Regions from separate parts of the Homo sapiens genome. Here region 1 is linked to region 2. Evidence: fine-mapped QTL for protein levels in blood plasma. A gene starts in region 2. The other region holds a variant in brackets. All regions are shown on one strand. Distances are between the middles of the regions.

Region 1 (8,294 bases), 100 kb before region 2:
CTGGAGTGCAGTGGTGTGATCTTGGCTCACTGTAACCTCTGCCTCCCAGGTTCAAACGATTCTCTTGCCTCAGTGTTTTTGTTGTTGTTGTTGTTGTTTGTTTGTTTGTTTGTTTTGTAGAGATGGAGCCTCACTCTGTCGCCCAGGCTGGAGTGCTGGAGTGCAGTGGTGTGATCTCGGCTCACTGCAACCTCCGCCTCCCGAGTTCAAGCAATTCTCCTGCCTCAGCCTCCTGAGTAGCTGGGACTACAGGTGCACGCCACCACGCCTGGTTAATTTCTTTTGTATTTTAGCAGAGATGGGGTTTCACCATGTTGCCTAGGCTGGTCTCAAACTCTTGAGCTCAGGCAATCCGCCCGCCTTGGCCTCCCAAAGTGTTGGGATTACAGGCATGAGCCACCGTGCCTGGCCTTGCCTCAGCCTCTTGAGTAGCTGGGATTACAGGCACGTGCCGACTGGCTAATTTTTGTATTTTTAGTAGAGATGGGGTTTCATCATGTCGGCCAGGCTGGTCTCGAACTCCTGACCTCAAATGATCCGCCCACCTCAGCCTCCCAAAGTGCTGGTATTACAGGCATGAACCACCACGCTTGGCCAGAACTGCCTTCCTTTTGAAGGCTGAGCAATATCCTATTGTGCGTGTGTGCCGCATTCTGTTCATGCATTCATATACTGATGGACACCTGTGTTGCTTCCACCTTTGGCTATTGTGAATAGTGCTGCTACAAACAGGGTTGTACAAATACCTGCTCAAGACTCTGCTTTCAGTTCTCTGGGGTATGTACCCAGAAGTGGAAATGCTGGATCATAATGGTAAAATATACACAACAAAATCTACCATCTTAACCTTTTTTCTTTTTTTTTTTTAGTGGTAATTCTGACTGGGCTTGGTGGCTCACACTTGTAAATCCGGCACTTTGGGAGGCTGAGGTGGGAGGATTGCTTGAGTCTAGGACTTCAAGACCAGCCTGGGTGACAAAGTGAGACCCCATCGCTACAAAAAAAAAAAAAAGTAATTTTGTTTAATTTTTGAAGATTTGCCATCCTGTTTTCCTTACTCCTCCCTTTGATGTGCAGTTTCTGTACTCACTGGGGCCTTCTGTGAATGAGGCAGTTCCAGGACAAGCTACCTTCTGGTCCCCCAAGTGAGGCAGGCGAAGATCACAGAGCTGAGGCTTCCTTGGCTGTGACACACCATTCCAAAAAAGCCTCTTATTAGTGACTAAGACCTATCACTTCATCAAATCTTATCAGACCTGCCACCTTGCCTAGCAATTTTACAACAATTACTCTAGAAGAGTGACTTTGTACAAACAAGCAGAAAGTATGAACACTGGGTGCAGAGGTGGGTGGCGGGCAGCCAGCTAGGCTCACCCACGAGCAGAGGATCTTGCTCCCACGGGCCAGCCTCACAGCACATTGAAACTTCTGGCTTAGCAAAGTCACAAATTAGACCATTCAGAGGCCAGGAGGACAGTCAAGGCCACACATTGCTCTGGCGCAATTTCTCTTGGTGCTTGTGTGCATCAATTTCTTCAGCTCAGTTCTTTTTGGAATCTCCTTGTCATACTGCTGGCAAAACAGAGCCAATATAAAATGACTATGGTGGGAAGGAGGCAGCAGGGCCCAGAGCTTTGAAGGGCCCACGTGACTTTAATGTTTTGGTGGCATCTGTCATAGACACAAATGGGGGTGGATGTCCCATTTGGGACAATTTCTCCAGGAGCCATGTTTGGACTCACCCTTTTTTAAAGATAACCCCTTCTTTTTCTACTTTAGACAAGTTTTTTGGGAAGCTTCCATCTTCCTACTCAGCTCCACCTTCCTGGTCAAATGATTGGTCCAAGGTTGGCATCATGGTACCTCACCTTCTGGCTCTTTCTTTTTTTTATCCTTTTTTTTTCCTTTCTTTTTGAGACAGAGTCTTGCTCTATCGCCCAGGCTGGAGGACAGTGATGGTGTGATCTCAGCTCACTGCAACCTCTGCCTCCCAGGTTCAAGGGATTCTCCTGCCTCAACCTCCTGAGTAGATGGGATTACAGGCATCTGCCACCATGTCCACCTAATTTTTGTATTTTTAGTAGAGACGGGGTTTCACCATATTGGCCAGGCTGGTCTTGAACTCTTGACCTCAAGTGATCTGCCTGCCTCGGCCTTCCAAAGTGCTGGGATTACAGGAGTGAGCCACTGTGCCTGGCCAGAACTGCCTTCCTTTTGAAGGCTGAGTAATATTTTATTGTGCGTGTGTGCTGCATTCTGTTCATCCATTCATATATTGAGGGACACCTGTGTTGCTTCCACCTTTGGCTATTGTGAATAGTGCTGCTATCAACAGGGTTGTACAAATACCTGATCGAGACTCTGCTTTCAATTCTCTGGGGCATGTACCCAGAAGTGGAAATGCTGGATCATACTGGTAAAATATACACAACAAAATTTACCATCTTAACCTTTTTTCTTTTTTTCAGTGGTAATTCTGGCTGAGGTGAGTGGCTCACACCTGTAAATCCAGCACTTTGGGAGGCTGAGATGGGAGAATTGCTTGAGCCTAGGACTTCAAGACCAGTCTGGGTGACAAAGTGAGACCCCGTTTCTACAAAAAAAAAAAATTAAAAAGGTAATTTTGTTTAATTTTTGAGGATTCACCATCTTGTTTTCCTTACTCCTCCCTTTGATGTGCAGTTTCTGTACTCAATGGGGTCTTCTGTGAATGAGGCAGTTCCAAGACAAGCTGCCTTCTGGTCCCCCAAGTGAGGCAGGCGAAGATCACAGAGCTGAGCCTTCGCTGGCTGTGACACGCCACTCCACAAAAGCCTCTTATTAGCGACTAAGAGCCATTACGTCATCAAATCTTATCAGACCTGCCACCTTGCCTAGCAATTTTACAACAATTACTCTAGAAGAATGACTTTGTACAAACAAGCAGAAAGTATGAACGCTGGCCATCTATGCAAGTTTTAACAATCCAGGTGCTAGATCCACCCAGAACTTGCAGATTACCCTGTGTACCCACTTCGTGAGCTGCACACACAGTCCTGCTGTTCTGTTGTGTAGCCAGAGTTGAGACCCCTTTACGTACTTCCTCAGGCAACATTTGGGCCAAATCCCACTCTGGAAACCTCCTCCCTCAACTTTGTGGCCTCTGAGCAGATCACTTTCCATTTCCATTTATTTCTTTTTCTTCTTTGCTTGGTTTCTGGCACATTCCTCTTTGAACTGCCAAGATCATGCTAGGTAAATGTTTATTGAATGTAAGCTAGCAGCTTGGTTTTAGGAGACACATATTTTATAGCAAGGGGTTTCAAACTTGAACGTGTGTCAGGATCAC[T/TG]GGGGGGCTTGCCGCAACAGCCCACCGGGCCCCATCCCTAGAGTTCCTGAGTAGTAGGTCTGGAGGGAGGCCTGAGAATTTTTTGCATTTCTAACAGGTTCCCAGGTAATGACGCTGCTGCTGGCATCAGTATCACCCGGGAACTTCTTAGAAATGAGGACCACACTGTTTCAGCGGAATACGAAAGTGTTCTCAATTCACATAGCGTCCAGCTAATCAAAACCACAAGTAGAAACTAGAGGTGTCACCAGCCTATAGACTGACTAACAGAGACTGTGAGCTCAGTCTGGCAGAGTGGAATTATAAGGCTGTGTGACCTTGAGCAAGTTGTGTAACCTCTCTGACCTTCAGTTTGCTTATCTGCAAAATGGGATAATAATAATAGCCAACGTTTGTGACATGCTTACTACATATGCCACACACTGTTCTAAGCACTCCACAGTAAGTATCATCACATTTCATCCTCATAACAAGCCTATGACTCGATACTGTTGTTATGCCTCTTACAGATGAAGAACGTGAGACATGGTACAGTAGATGGCGGGCAGTAGCTGGCACACAGCCAGCAAGAGGCTGAACCAAGATTCCAATCCAGGCAGTTGGGACCCAACGTCTGAGCTTTCATACTAGGGAGCCCCTCTCACCCCCTTCAGACCCCCCCTCAAGGGCTTCTGAGAGGAAAGTGTGATGATTTGTAAAACGCTGGCTGATAGCCTGGTACACGGAAGCACTCAACAAAGTTTGTGGTTATTGTGAGTTGGTGCCCGGACGTGCACCTATCTGTGTCCTTGTAGGCTGTGCCCAAGGACATCCCAGCACGTGTGTTGACTATTGCACAGATCCACAGAATATCAGACCCCAAAATCATGCCCGTTGGACAGGAGGGGGCTGTCCATATTATGTAATGTGTTAATTCTTGGGTCCTTGGATGGGACAAGGTTGTGAATATGCATCACTTAGAAAACTTATCAGCGAGCGAGGAATGGAGTTGTTTACAAAACCAAGCCCTTGACGTCTTCCTGGACCTCAACCTCATCTCATCAGCTCCCCCTACGGAGTGGGGCGGAGGCGGCGGAAACGCTGAACGCTCAGGGTCGACAGGAGCAGGGGCTGCACTGCCCGCCACCTAGTGGCCAAAGTGAGCAGGTCCCCTAAAAGACACGACGCCCCGCGATCTGCGGTAAATCACATTCCTTGCGATTCTGCAATCACAGGTAGATTTGGAATGGGCTAGGATCCCCTGAGAGACTGTTTATAAGGAGGGCGGTCTATGTAGATGCACTAATTTGAGGGAGGGAGAGCGTGGGAGGGTCTCTGCGGAGGAGAGATGCTTTCTCTCTGGAAACCCTGGACGTGAAGGCACCTGCCAGCTGCCATTTTTCTTGCTCTAAGCTTTTCTGCAAAGGAGGGAATAAAACTGAGATGCTTTACTAGGAACTCAGGTGGGAAAATAAACAGTTTCCTTAGGAAAGATGCCAGAGGCAGGGAGCAGAGGCAAAATCCAAGAGAGAGATGAGGTTGTTTTTTGTTTTTGTTTTTGTTCGTTTTAAATCAATTTGGGCCGGGCGCGGTGGCTCACGCCTGTAATCCCAGCACTTTGGGAGGCCGAGGCGGGCAGATCACAAGGTCAGGAGTCTGAGATCAGCTTGGCCAATATGGTGAAACCCCGTCTCTACTAAAACTACAAATATATATACATATCTATATGTACATACATATATATACACACACATATATATACATATACACACACATATATATACATATATATACACATATATATACACACACATATATATATACATATACACACACATATATATACATATATATACACACATATATATACACATATATATATACACATATATATACACACACACACATATATATATATATATTAGCCAGGCGTGGTGGCACGCACCTGTAGTCCCAGCTACTCGGGAGGCTGAGGCAGAAGAATCACTTGAACCCAGGAGGCGGAGGATGCAGTGAGCCGAGATCGCCCCGCTGCACTGCAGCCTGAGCCACAGAACGGGACTCCGTCTAAAAAAATAAATAAAAAACAAATATTTCCCCACTCTGCCACATCGAGAGGCCGGCATGGTTCACCCGTGGGAGGGGAGGAGCAGGTGTGCTAAGCAGTAGCTGTGGTTTTAAAATGTTTTTCTTTTCACCATCATCCTTCTTTATCCCTCAGTTTCTTCCCTCTGCAGCCCCGGAAGAAGGAGGTGGGCCGTTCTCGCATTGCTGTAAAGGAATACCTCAGACTGGGTAATTTATAAAGGAAGAGGATTCATTGGCTCACAGTTCTGCAGGCTGTACAGGAAGCGTAGCAGCATCTGCTTCTTGGAAGGCCTCAGGAAGCTCCCGATCATGGCAGAAGGCAAAGAGGGAGCAGATGCATCACACGGCGAAAGCAGGAGCAACAGGAGCAGGAGGTGCCACACACTTTTTTTTTTTTTTTTTTTTTGAGATGGAGTCTCGCTCTGTCGCCCAGACTGGATGAAGTGGCGCGATCTTGGCTCACTGTAACCTCTGCCGCCTGGGTTCAAGCGATTCTAGTGCCTCATCCTCCCGAGTAGCTGGGAGGCCTCCACAATCACCGATCACTGTGTCCAAGGGAGAAGGTGCTGGAGGAGCGTGTTCTGCTCCTCAAGACTGTGGCTCAGAAGCAACACATGTCTCTTCTACTCCCATTGGCCAGAATTAGTCACATGGCCCCAACCTAACTGCAGTGGTGGCTGAGAGTGTTGTCTTCCTGAGTACCCAGAAAGAGGAAAATGCAAAAAGATTTGGTGAAAATATAGCATTGTCTTTGCCATAACAAACATACTTCCTTTGTTGATTTTTTTAAATCAAAGGCAATAATTGGAGATAAATGTGTTATATCTCCTCTTGGAGAATATTTTGTTGTCATGTTAAAAGCCTCTGAAAAGTCTTGCTGTAAATATGGAACTTTTATTTAATCTGGCATTTCCCAGATTTGGTGATTGAGGCCTTTTAAATAATTTAATAGCTTTGGAATTAATATTTGGAGATATAAACTTTGGGAAATTGCCCTAAATGTGTCAACTGGTGAGTCCAAATCTGTGGGGGGAAAATGATGAGCAAAGAGATGAGTAATGTGTTCTACAAAAGTAGAGGACAGTCAGGTGCAGTGGCTCAGGCCTGTAATCTCAGCACTTTGGGAGGCTGAGGTGGGCAGATCACCTGTTAGGAGTTCAAGACCAGCCTGGCCAACATGGTGAAACCCTGTTTCTACTAAAAATATAAAAATTAGCCGGGGGTTGTGGCGGACACCTGTAATCCCAGCTTCTAGGGAGGCTGAGGCAGGGGAATCACTTGAACCTGGGAGGTGGAGGTTGCAGTGAGCAGAGATCACGCCACTGCACTCCAGCCTGGGCAACAGAGCAAGACTCTGTCTCAAAAAAAAAAAAAAAAAAAAAGTAAGGAATGAATTAGACCTGGGGCTGAGAGAGGGAGAGGATAACACTGGGGAAAATTTTCCTGAGATGGGAAAGGCCTGGGAAACAATGACAGGCTCAGAGCAGAGGGTGATTCAGCCCAGGCCACAAGCTTGAGGGCCCTGGAGCAGATGCAGCTATAAACCAGGAGAGTCGGTGCAGCCAATGTCAAGAGCTGGGAGGCTTGTTTGGTGCCGACTCGTAGCCCTGTGTAGCTAGAGGAATCTTAGGGCTCATTCAAACTGCCTTCTTCATGTTATAGACAAGAAGGGTAGGGGCTTAGAAAAATGTAGTTTTTTATTCTTAAAGTAATTCATATTCATGAAAGACAATCTGAACTAAGCACAAAGAAGATTAAAAAAAAAAACAACCACCATATTCTGGTCAGGTGCGATGGTTCATGCCTGTAATTCCAGCACTTTGGGAGGCTGACACAGGTAGATTGCTTGAGCCCAGAAGTTTGAGACCAGCCTGGTCAACAGAATGAGACCCCATCTCTAAAAAAGAATTTATAAATTAGCTGGGCATAGTGGCACTTGCCTGTAGTCCCAGCTACTCAGAAGGCTAAGGTGGGAGGATCACCTGAACCCAGGAGGTTGAGGCTGTAGTAAGCTGTGATCCCACCACTGCACTCCAGCCTAGGGGGGCAACAGAGCAAGACCTTGTCTCAAAAAATATATAAATATAAATAAAAACATATTCCACCTTGTAAAGGTTAAGTGTTTTATTCTGGAGGAGACAACTGCCACCAGGTGGCACTAAACCTAGCTGGCCTGGGCTGATGGGGAACCCCAGCTGTGCAGGCTCTCCAAGGCCACTCATTAACCTCAAAATAAGGCAGCTCCGCAAATCATATGGTTGTATTTCTGGACCCCACTTACTGGTTATGAAAATATTTTACCATTTATTTGATCGGTCTTTCTAATTGTGCTGTACAAATCTTCCACATCTTAAATTTTTGGGGGTCTATTTGATCAGTGAGAAAAATGGTTAAAATATCCATTGTTGACAATTTTTCCTTGTAGTTCAGTTTTTGCCTTATATATTTTGAAGCTATGTTGTTAGGTGTCTAAGGATTCGTGCCTTATATGTTCTATTCAGTTATTTTTTTTGATAAAAATGAAATATCTTTTTCTGTCCCATTCAATCCTTTTCTTTTTGAATTCTGTCTATAGCCAGCCATAGCACTCTGAACATGCCTGATCTTGTCTGAATTCTATAGAATCTGATTGGTATTGCTAAACCAGCATTTTGTTAATATTTGTTTGCTACATCTTTTTCTATGTATTTATTTAAAAAAAAAAAAAATTTTGAGACAGGGTCTCACTCTGTTGCCCAGGCTGGAGTGCAGTGGCACCATCATGGCTCACAGCAGCCTAGGCCTCCCCAGGCTCACGTAACCTCAACCTCAACCTCCCAAGCAGCTGGGACTACAGGTGCACACCACCACACCAGCTAATTTTTGTATTTTTTTGTAGAGACAAGGTCTCCCTGTGTTG
Region 2 (8,273 bases):
CCTACATATTACTTTGGATCCCGAAACCAAAGAGGTTTCCTATGAAAATGAAACAGTTATCCAAGGATTCTTTCACCTGAAAAACGGAGTCCAAATCTGGGGCAGGCAAATAATGAAACCCTCAGACCTATGCAAGTGACACTATTCCATCCAGACATGAAGAAACTTTAATGCGGCTCACTAGATTTATGTTCGGAAATATGGGCTATTGTTGAACTCTCTCTCGAATAACTCTCAGATACATTTTTCTCCTGTGCTCTGAGAAGCTACATTACTGCAGAAGGCTGAATAGGCAGGCAAGTTAATGAAACAATACACATGTGCACAACTACAGTTTAATTTCATGATCAGCAGCCCTGATAACAAACTCAATGAACATTCTACTTATGGCCTCAGTATAAACACTTGATATCGCCTATTAGGATAATTAATGCAGGTGATCACTGTCAGAATAAATGATAAGCAAAGACATTGCTAGTTAAGACTCATCTATCAGATTACAGTGTTTCTATACACACATGATCCTCAGTTCTCGGTGACTTTTTAAAAACCTCCCTCTAAAACCAAAATATTGGCTAAATGAAAGAAATCTGATATCTTATAGCTTTTAAAAAAAAAGGTACTTTGCCTCACATTGTACTGATCTCTTTGGTAATTGAGAGATGTGGCACCTAAATAACCATAAAATGAGGACTGCTGACAGTGATGATGTAACCCTAACCAACTCTAGGAGCAAGATATAGGTCTAGGAAGAAAGGAAAAACTCACTGACTAAATAAGCACATTCTGGATTAACAAAAGACAGCCTCAAGTGCTTAATAATACCAATGTTATTGCGTTTTGGATCTGGTAGCCTAAAGTCTCAACTCATAATGAGTCAATGTCTGGCTCAATAAGACACACACTGAAAGAAAATCACAGTATTGCCTCCAATGCAATAGTTACTACATCAATCAAAAAGAAATATCAAAAACTATTTCTTGCAGAGGCATAGTATAACATTCAAAAAATGATGGCTTAGAGTAAAAAGCATCTTTGGAGCATAAAGAGAATTTACATTTATTATCTATTAAGCACGTGTGAAGGTGGTGCCTTCTTTCACATGTTAGCTGTCCCCATTTCACCTATCAGGAAGGAGTCTCTAAGAAGTAAAATCATGGCCGGGTGCGGTGGCTCATGCCTGTAATCCCAGCATTTTGGAAGGCCAAGGTGGGTGGATCACTTGAGGTCAGGAGTTCGAGACCAACCTGGCCAACATGGTGAAACCACGTCTCTACTAAAAATACAAAAATTAGCCGGGTGTAGTGGTGGGCTCCTGTAATCCCAGCTACTCGGGAGGCTGAGGCAGGAGAATCGCTTGAACCCGGGAGGCGGAGGTTGCAGTGAGCTGAGACCACACCATTGCACTCCAGCCTGGGCAACAAGAGCGAAGAAACTCCATATCAAAAAAAAAAAAAAAAAGAAGTAGTAGTAGTAGTAGTAAAAGAATATGCCTAGGGCACAGCTAGCAAGTGACCAGTTAGAACTCAGGTTTGTCTGATTTTATACCCACTGCGTTCTGCACATCACTGTTGCCTGGTTTAACTGCAAACTTTGCTATGAGTTTCATTTACAATTTTAAAATAATAATTCTTACTATGTTTGGGGGTAAAAACCCTTGGGAGAAAATTCTAGGAGTGAAATTCTGACCTTTCTTTTTTTTTTTTGAGACAGAGTCTTGCTCTGTCACCCAGGCTGGAGCACAGTGACTCCATCTCTGCAACCTCTGCCTCCCAGGTTCGGGTGATTCTCCTGCCTCAGCCTCCCCAGTAGCTGGGATTACAGGCCTGCGCTACCACGCCCGGCTAATTTTTTTTTTTTTTTTTTTTTGTATGTTTAGTAGAGACAAGGTTTCACCATGTTGGCCAGGCTGGTCTCAAACTCCTGACCTCAAGTGATCCACCCACCTCAGCCTCCCAAAGTGCTGGGATTACAGGCATGAGCCACCGGGCCCGGCCTGACCTTTCACCTAAATATAGTTACGCTAAACTATAACCTTTTGATAAGGGTCTGGAATATTTTATCATGAACTCTGAGAAGTTTGGATTTCTAAATACAAATTGGAAATATTTACACGAACTGAAACTATAGTTCCAACTACAGCTAAATCGTTATTTTTGGCTCTTTAGCCTAAGTTATTCAATAACCAAACACTAGAATCCAGTGACAAAGTAGCAAAAGGAAAGATGTGGCAAAGGAAACCATTATACACCTATCCCTTGACGTTATGAAATGATCGAATTCATGTCAAACATTTGGTCATTCTGCTTATACCTTCGTTTGTGAACAGATGCCAGGCAGTAGTTACCAATCCAAGGTGAGGTGCTCAAGTTCAAAACCTGACCTTAGTTGTAAAAGTGGGGTTTTTATTTGAAAGAAAAACTTAACTTCCACAAGTTCTATTATAAAGAGTCTACAAATTTTCCTTTATTTAAAAAAAAAAACCCTGAATTTGAAAAAGGCAACCTTATTTATTTACTTCTCCTGTTTCCAAATTCTTGTTACTCCAAGAGTACAGACAGTTATTTACCTAAAATGCAAAACCTCCAAAGAGTTCACACGGTGGCTGGCACTCAGGCACACACATGTCAGTGCTCTACTGGGACACCTGGTACATGATATCCCTATTAAAGAGTACACAGTACCTTTAAAGAGGTCATTAAACAGAACACGGACAAATTTGCCACGCTCACATCCTGAACAATACATTTTGTGAAAAACATTCGCTAATTTAGGTTCTTCCAACCAGAAGAAAAAAAAAAGCCAAGTCTCCCACAAAGTGCCCCCAAATCCACAGCTGAGTGAAGGTCATAAAGAGTTAAATGAATGTAAACCAGGCCCTATCATTCGTCTCCTCCAGAAAAAGATGAAAAGACATTTCTGATGGCCCCAGGTGCTCTCCCACGAGGAGACAGTCTTTCATTTGAGGTTCTGAAGCGGCCTCACCTCGAACCCATGCGGGATCTTCCAAGAGTGCAATTCCCACAGCTCCACTTGCTCAAGGAAGTCTCGGTGCACAGAAGGAAGCCTGCAGCCTCCCAGTACCAAGAAACCGGCAGGGCAAGTGGCAGAAGCCAGCTCTCGGGTGAGAGTCCTTACTCCCTGTTGCATTCGTTCCCCAAAGTTTTCGAATTTTTAAAAAGTTCAAACAAGGATTCGAAGCGCAGGACAGACCCTTCCCCTGGATCCCAACGCCCTTTCGGCTCCTCCGCGGCCCCCGCCAGGCAGCGCCGGCGCCCGCCCGCGAGGAGGAGGGTCCCGCAGGTGGGCGGCCTCCTCAGGCCGGGGCCTTCTGGGACCCCCAAGTGCCGTGCAGGACGCCACGAAGTTGCGCCCGAGCCCGCGGGGTCCGGGGAGCCGCTGCCCGTGACAGCCGCGCTGGCTTGGGAGGCTCTTCGGGCGGCCGACGCCTCGGTGGGGCCGCGACTCCCGTCAGGGAAGCTCTCCCGGCCCGGTGCCGCCTCCTACGCCCGGCCCGAGCCTCCCACGGCTGGGCTCACGGGGCATCTGGCCGCCGCCGTCGCGCTCCCAGCTCGGACTCCAGCCCCGGCGCCGCGACGCTGCCCCGGCCCCGACCCGGCCGTCGCGAGCTGTCCTCCACCCCACGCTCCCCGGTCACTCACCCCGAGGCCGGGCAGCAGCAGCGTCAGCAGCAGCAGCAGCCGCCGGGCCGGCATGGCGAGGACTCGGCCCTGGCTCCGGGGGCGGTACGGACAGAGGACGGGGCGGGGGCGCCGCGACGACAGCGAGGCGGTGACCGAGCCTCAGCGGACGCAGAACTGACTAGGCAGCGGCGGCACCCCCATTCCCGGCCCTATAAGCGCTGGGTGCCGCGGCTTCTTCCGGTCGGGGCGGAGTTGCGGGCGGGGACGGGGCGGGGCCAATCTAGGGGCGTGTTCGGGGCGGAGATGGGGGCGGGCCGAGGGCGTGCCCCGGGCGGGGATGTGGGAGGGGCTGGCTCGGGGCGGGGCCGAAGGCGGTGCTGGCATCTGGCTGGCTTCGCTCATGAGGCGTCGGCGGCTGTAAAGGACCAGGCCTCGGCATCCAGCGTCTGGGGGCGCTGGGGGATCGAGGCGCGAAGCTTGTCTGTGGCTGGGAAAGACCGGCAATGCCCCACCAGGCCGTCCCATTAACCCTGCCGAGGGACCTGCCGCGTCAGACTTCATCGGGGAAAAGGGCGGGACACGGGCGGTCCCGGGTGCCTAGAAGCCTCCTTTTCGTCTTTCCGCCGTGGTGGAATCATCCGCAAGGTTTACCGAGGCGACCTCCGGAGCGAAGGTTTCAGCAGCTACCGGAGGCTTCCAGCAAACACGGCGCAGCTGCCCCGCGCGGCAGTCGCAGTGTTCACAGCCCTAGGGTTCTCCAGCTGTGCCTCGTCTTCTCTGGGGCCCCTTTCTTCCTTTTCCTTGCCCTCAGGAATTCCCCTCAAGTCATATCCACCAGCCATCACTTCCGCTTGGAATGAACCACGGCCAAGTCACTCACCAAAAATTATAAGGAGGAAACCATTTCGGCCACTTGTGTCACGTGCGTTGATGTGACACGTGTGGATGTGAAGTTTGAGATGGTCTGCGTCACAACTCGTTGGAGGGAGTGGGTGGGTTGAGGCCTCCTGCAAGGTCTATGTGAGGGTGTGGAGTACTAATTAGAGTTAAAGAGCTCGGCAGCTGTTTGGTCACTGGCACTGGCCTCCACTGAGAGGGACATGGGTAGGGAGGACACGTCTTTTGCAAGGAAAGACAGTAAACTGAGATTTGGAGCCCAGGGAAAGGTATCTAACTTATCCTAGGAGAAAAAGAAAACGGCTATGAAATTCTCTAATTTTTCCTGACTTGCTTATATGAGAGCCTAAGATTTTTCAGGTTTGAAGGAAAAGAATAAGCACTCCTAGACAAAACAACAAAGTAGTAGTGGGGGACTGGCCAAATGTCCAGTCTGTGTGCATTGTGGTCAATCTTATCCAACTAAAACAGACCAAAATGACAGTAAGCCCAAATCCTGCAAATAGAGCTCCCCATTCCTAACCCCCTAGGCCTGGATTACAGTGAAGGGACTAAGTCCTACCGCATGCTGGAGACTCCAACACATCTCTGTAAGAGTGGGAAGAATCTTGGCAACTGTGAAAACAGTAGAGACATTTTGAAAAGTGTTACCTGAATGTCTAAATGCAAACAGAGGTTTGGGATTGGCAGAGAGATGTACTGAGAGGCCCAGCACTCCTGAGCAGTATAGCCGGGCTTCCAGGGAGGCCTACAGCCCTGAAACTGGGAGGAGCTCTTTATTTCTTGACCTTTTATCTTTTCTTTTTAGAGATGAGGTCTCACGGTGTTGCCCAGGCTGCTCTCAAACTCCTGGGCTCAAGAGATCCTCCCCAGTAGCTGGGACTTCAGGTGTGCCCCACGACACCTGGCTTGGGAGGACCTCTTTAGTGATTACCTGTCCAGTTTGCCAGCTGACAACAGCATCTGTTAGACCCTGTATACTTGACTTAAAAGAGAAGCTTGACTGAAAAATGTCACTTTCACATCCCCCCCTCTGGTGCTTTTTCTCAAACAGAGTAAGTCTAGGAGGGGAAAATTTGCTGTACTGGAACTCTGGCAGCCCTTTTACAATTCAAAATGTCACTGTGACCCTGTAACATCAGCAGATGAAACACAAAGGGGAATGCTGACCTCAATTTCACTCATAAATCAGTTTTAAAGATCGTAGAAAGAAAAAAAATCTGTTCCAAGAAGCCTGGACAGTTAGGTATTATTTATCTTACACTCAGTTGGACCAAATCCCCAGGGCTTAATTGCACTGTTACATGTTCTCTGAATTTCTTTCTTTTTTTTTTTTTTTTGAGACAGAGTTTCACTCTTTTGCCCAGGCTAGAGTGCAGTGGCACGATCGTGGCTCACTGCAACCTCTGCCTTTTCGGTTTCAAGCGATTCTCCTGCCTGAGACTCCCGAGTAGCTGGGATTACAGGTGCCTGCCACCACGCCTGGCTAATTTTTGTATTTTTATAGAGACGGGGTTTCACCATGTTGGCCAGGCTGGTCTCGAACTCCTGACCTCGTGATCTGCCCACCTCCGCCTCCTAAAGTGCTGGGATTACAGGCGTGAGCCACTGTGCCCGGCCCCATTCTCTGAATTTCTTATGCATCGTCCACATGCTTCATGCACTTCTTCACTTGATTGGCAATCCAGACAGATAAGCACTGGTTTTATTTATGGTGGCATTGCCCATAATCTTGCTCTACAGTCAAGTACTTCTTTAGGCAGCTTTTTGCTTATGATAAAGTAAAAGCTGATAGCACTGATAAACACAAACAGAAATGGAATATTTTGTAGGGTGCCTTTGAAGTGGACCTGACCATATAAAAGACCTGCAAATGGGCAGTAAATGACCTTTCTGCAAGTCACATTAAATAACATCCACTGAATAAAGCAAAGGTCATGGTCTTAGTGTAAAGATAAGGCCTCTTTTCCACCAGTGTAAGAAACATATATACATCAGATTCAACAAAGAAGTACAGCAGGATCTGACTATGGGGAGGTGGGAGAAAATCTTATTTTCACTTCCCTTTAAACCACTGGTTCCCAAACTTGGAGAGCTAAAAAAACAAAACAAAACAACAACAACAAAAAACAGATTTCCAGGCCAGGCATGGTGGCTCACGCCTGTAATCCCAGCACTTTGGGAGGCCGAAGCAGGAGGATTGCTTGAGATCAAGACCAGCCTAGGGAACATGGTGAGACCCTGTTTCTGTAAAAAAAAAAAAACAAAAAACCAAAAAATTAGTCAGGCATAGTGGTTCACACCTGTAGTTCCAGTGACTTGGGAAGCTGAGGTGGGAGGATGGCTTGAGCCCAGGAGGTCAAGGCTGCAGTGAGCTTTGATCGTGCCATGGCACTCCAGCCTGGACGACAGAGCAAGACCCTGTCTCAAAAAAATAGAAATAAAAAGCTGGGCATGGTGGCTCACACCTGTAATCCCAGCACTTTGGGAGGACGAGGCAGGTGGATCACGAGGTCAGGAGTTCAAGACCAACCAGCCTGAGCAACATGGTGAAACCCTGTCTCTACTAAAAAAACAAAAATTAGCCGGGCGTGGTGGTGTGCGCCTGTAGTCCCAGCTACTTGGGAGGCTGAGGGAGAAAAATCTCTTGAACCCGGGAGGCAGAGGTTGCAGTGAGCCAAGACTGCGCCACTGCACTCCAGTCTGGGCGACAGAGTGAGACTCCATCTCAAAAAACAAACAAAAAAAAAGAAATTAAAAACATATTTCCAATAACTTCTTGTACCCCTTTCCCTGACTGATTCACAATGTCCAGGGGCAGAGCCCAGAGACCTGTGCGTTTTGCAGTTTCCACCGTACACTGAAGGCAGTCAAGATCCAGGGCTCCAGCTCAATCATGATGTCCAGCCTTCATCCCTGCAACCATGAATCCCTTTTAGTTTAGCAAATATCGCCCTCTAGTGTAATAAATTATGACCCAAAAAAGGAGCTTGTGCCTGTCTCATTTGTGTTTAAAACCCTTCAAAATCTCATTTAAAAATGCTTGTGAGGTTGATTTGCAGATAGCTAGTGACAGGATAGATACCTTTGAAGGCGGAGACTTGAAAGAAAAATCTAGTAAAACCAGAAAGAAAGGTCATGGTTGAAAACTCCAGTAACATTTCAAAGGAATAGTATCTTTATCAGAATAAATCAAGTCAGTTTTTTTGTTGTTGTTGTTTTTAGTGATATCGCTGCTGCTGCTTCTTGAACTGAACCTACAGAGTGTGTGGAAGTAGTTATGGGATAAATATTAATACAACCATAAAGGGGCAAGGCGCTGTGACTTACACCTGTAATCCCGCACTTTGGGAGGCTGAGGTGGCGGGTATCTTCAGCCTAAGAGTTTGAAACCAGTCTGGGCAACATAGTGACACTTTGTCCCTACAAAAAAATAAAATAATTAGCCAGGTGCCATGGTGCACACCTGTAGTCCCAGCTACTCTGGAAGCTGAGGTGAGAGGATTGCTTGAGCCTGAGAGGTGGAGGCTGCAGTGAGCTGTCATAGCACCACTGCACTCCAGCCTGGGCAGCAGAGCGAGACCCTGTCTCAAAACAAACAAACAAACAAACACAAAAAACAATGAAGCAAGAGTCTCTGATAGCAAGCTAAATTCTCATCTCCGTCCTCCCGTCACGTTTAAGGGACATTTTAAAAGTTGTTCTCACTGTGAACACTTTGGTTTTTAGGTA

Direction of the effects. Alleles are on the strand shown, and positions count from the first base shown. The strength of an association depends on the size of the effect and on how common the allele is.
As copies of TG replace T in region 1, the plasma level of the protein whose gene starts at base 3,831 in region 2 goes up (weak association).

What was found. PIP is the chance, under the fine-mapping model, that this variant and not a neighbour inherited with it causes the effect. Protein levels are from antibody-based Olink assays in UK Biobank. Linkage for the fine-mapping came from a reference panel and not from the study's own genotypes, which makes the PIPs less certain.
Region 1: its variant is fine-mapped to the plasma level of the ERN1 protein (UK Biobank, PIP above 0.99).

What each region holds. Positions count from the first base shown.
Region 1 is chr17:64,021,517-64,029,810 of GRCh38, forward strand. No RefSeq gene overlaps it. Among named protein-coding and RNA genes, the nearest start is that of ICAM2, 5.0 kb to the left of the region's middle. RefSeq lists cis regulatory regions at 2,650-3,087, 4,189-4,634 and an enhancer at 4,232-4,281. The variant T/TG (reference allele first, on the strand shown) is at 3,329.
Region 2 is chr17:64,126,314-64,134,586 of GRCh38, forward strand. It overlaps ERN1 (endoplasmic reticulum to nucleus signaling 1), which reads right to left and starts at 3,831. Exons shown (of 22, transcript NM_001433.5): 1 at 3,663-3,831. The coding sequence starts at 3,716. RefSeq lists silencers at 3,342-3,791, 3,882-4,011 and enhancers at 4,432-4,631, 4,682-4,731, 5,636-5,695, 7,291-7,340.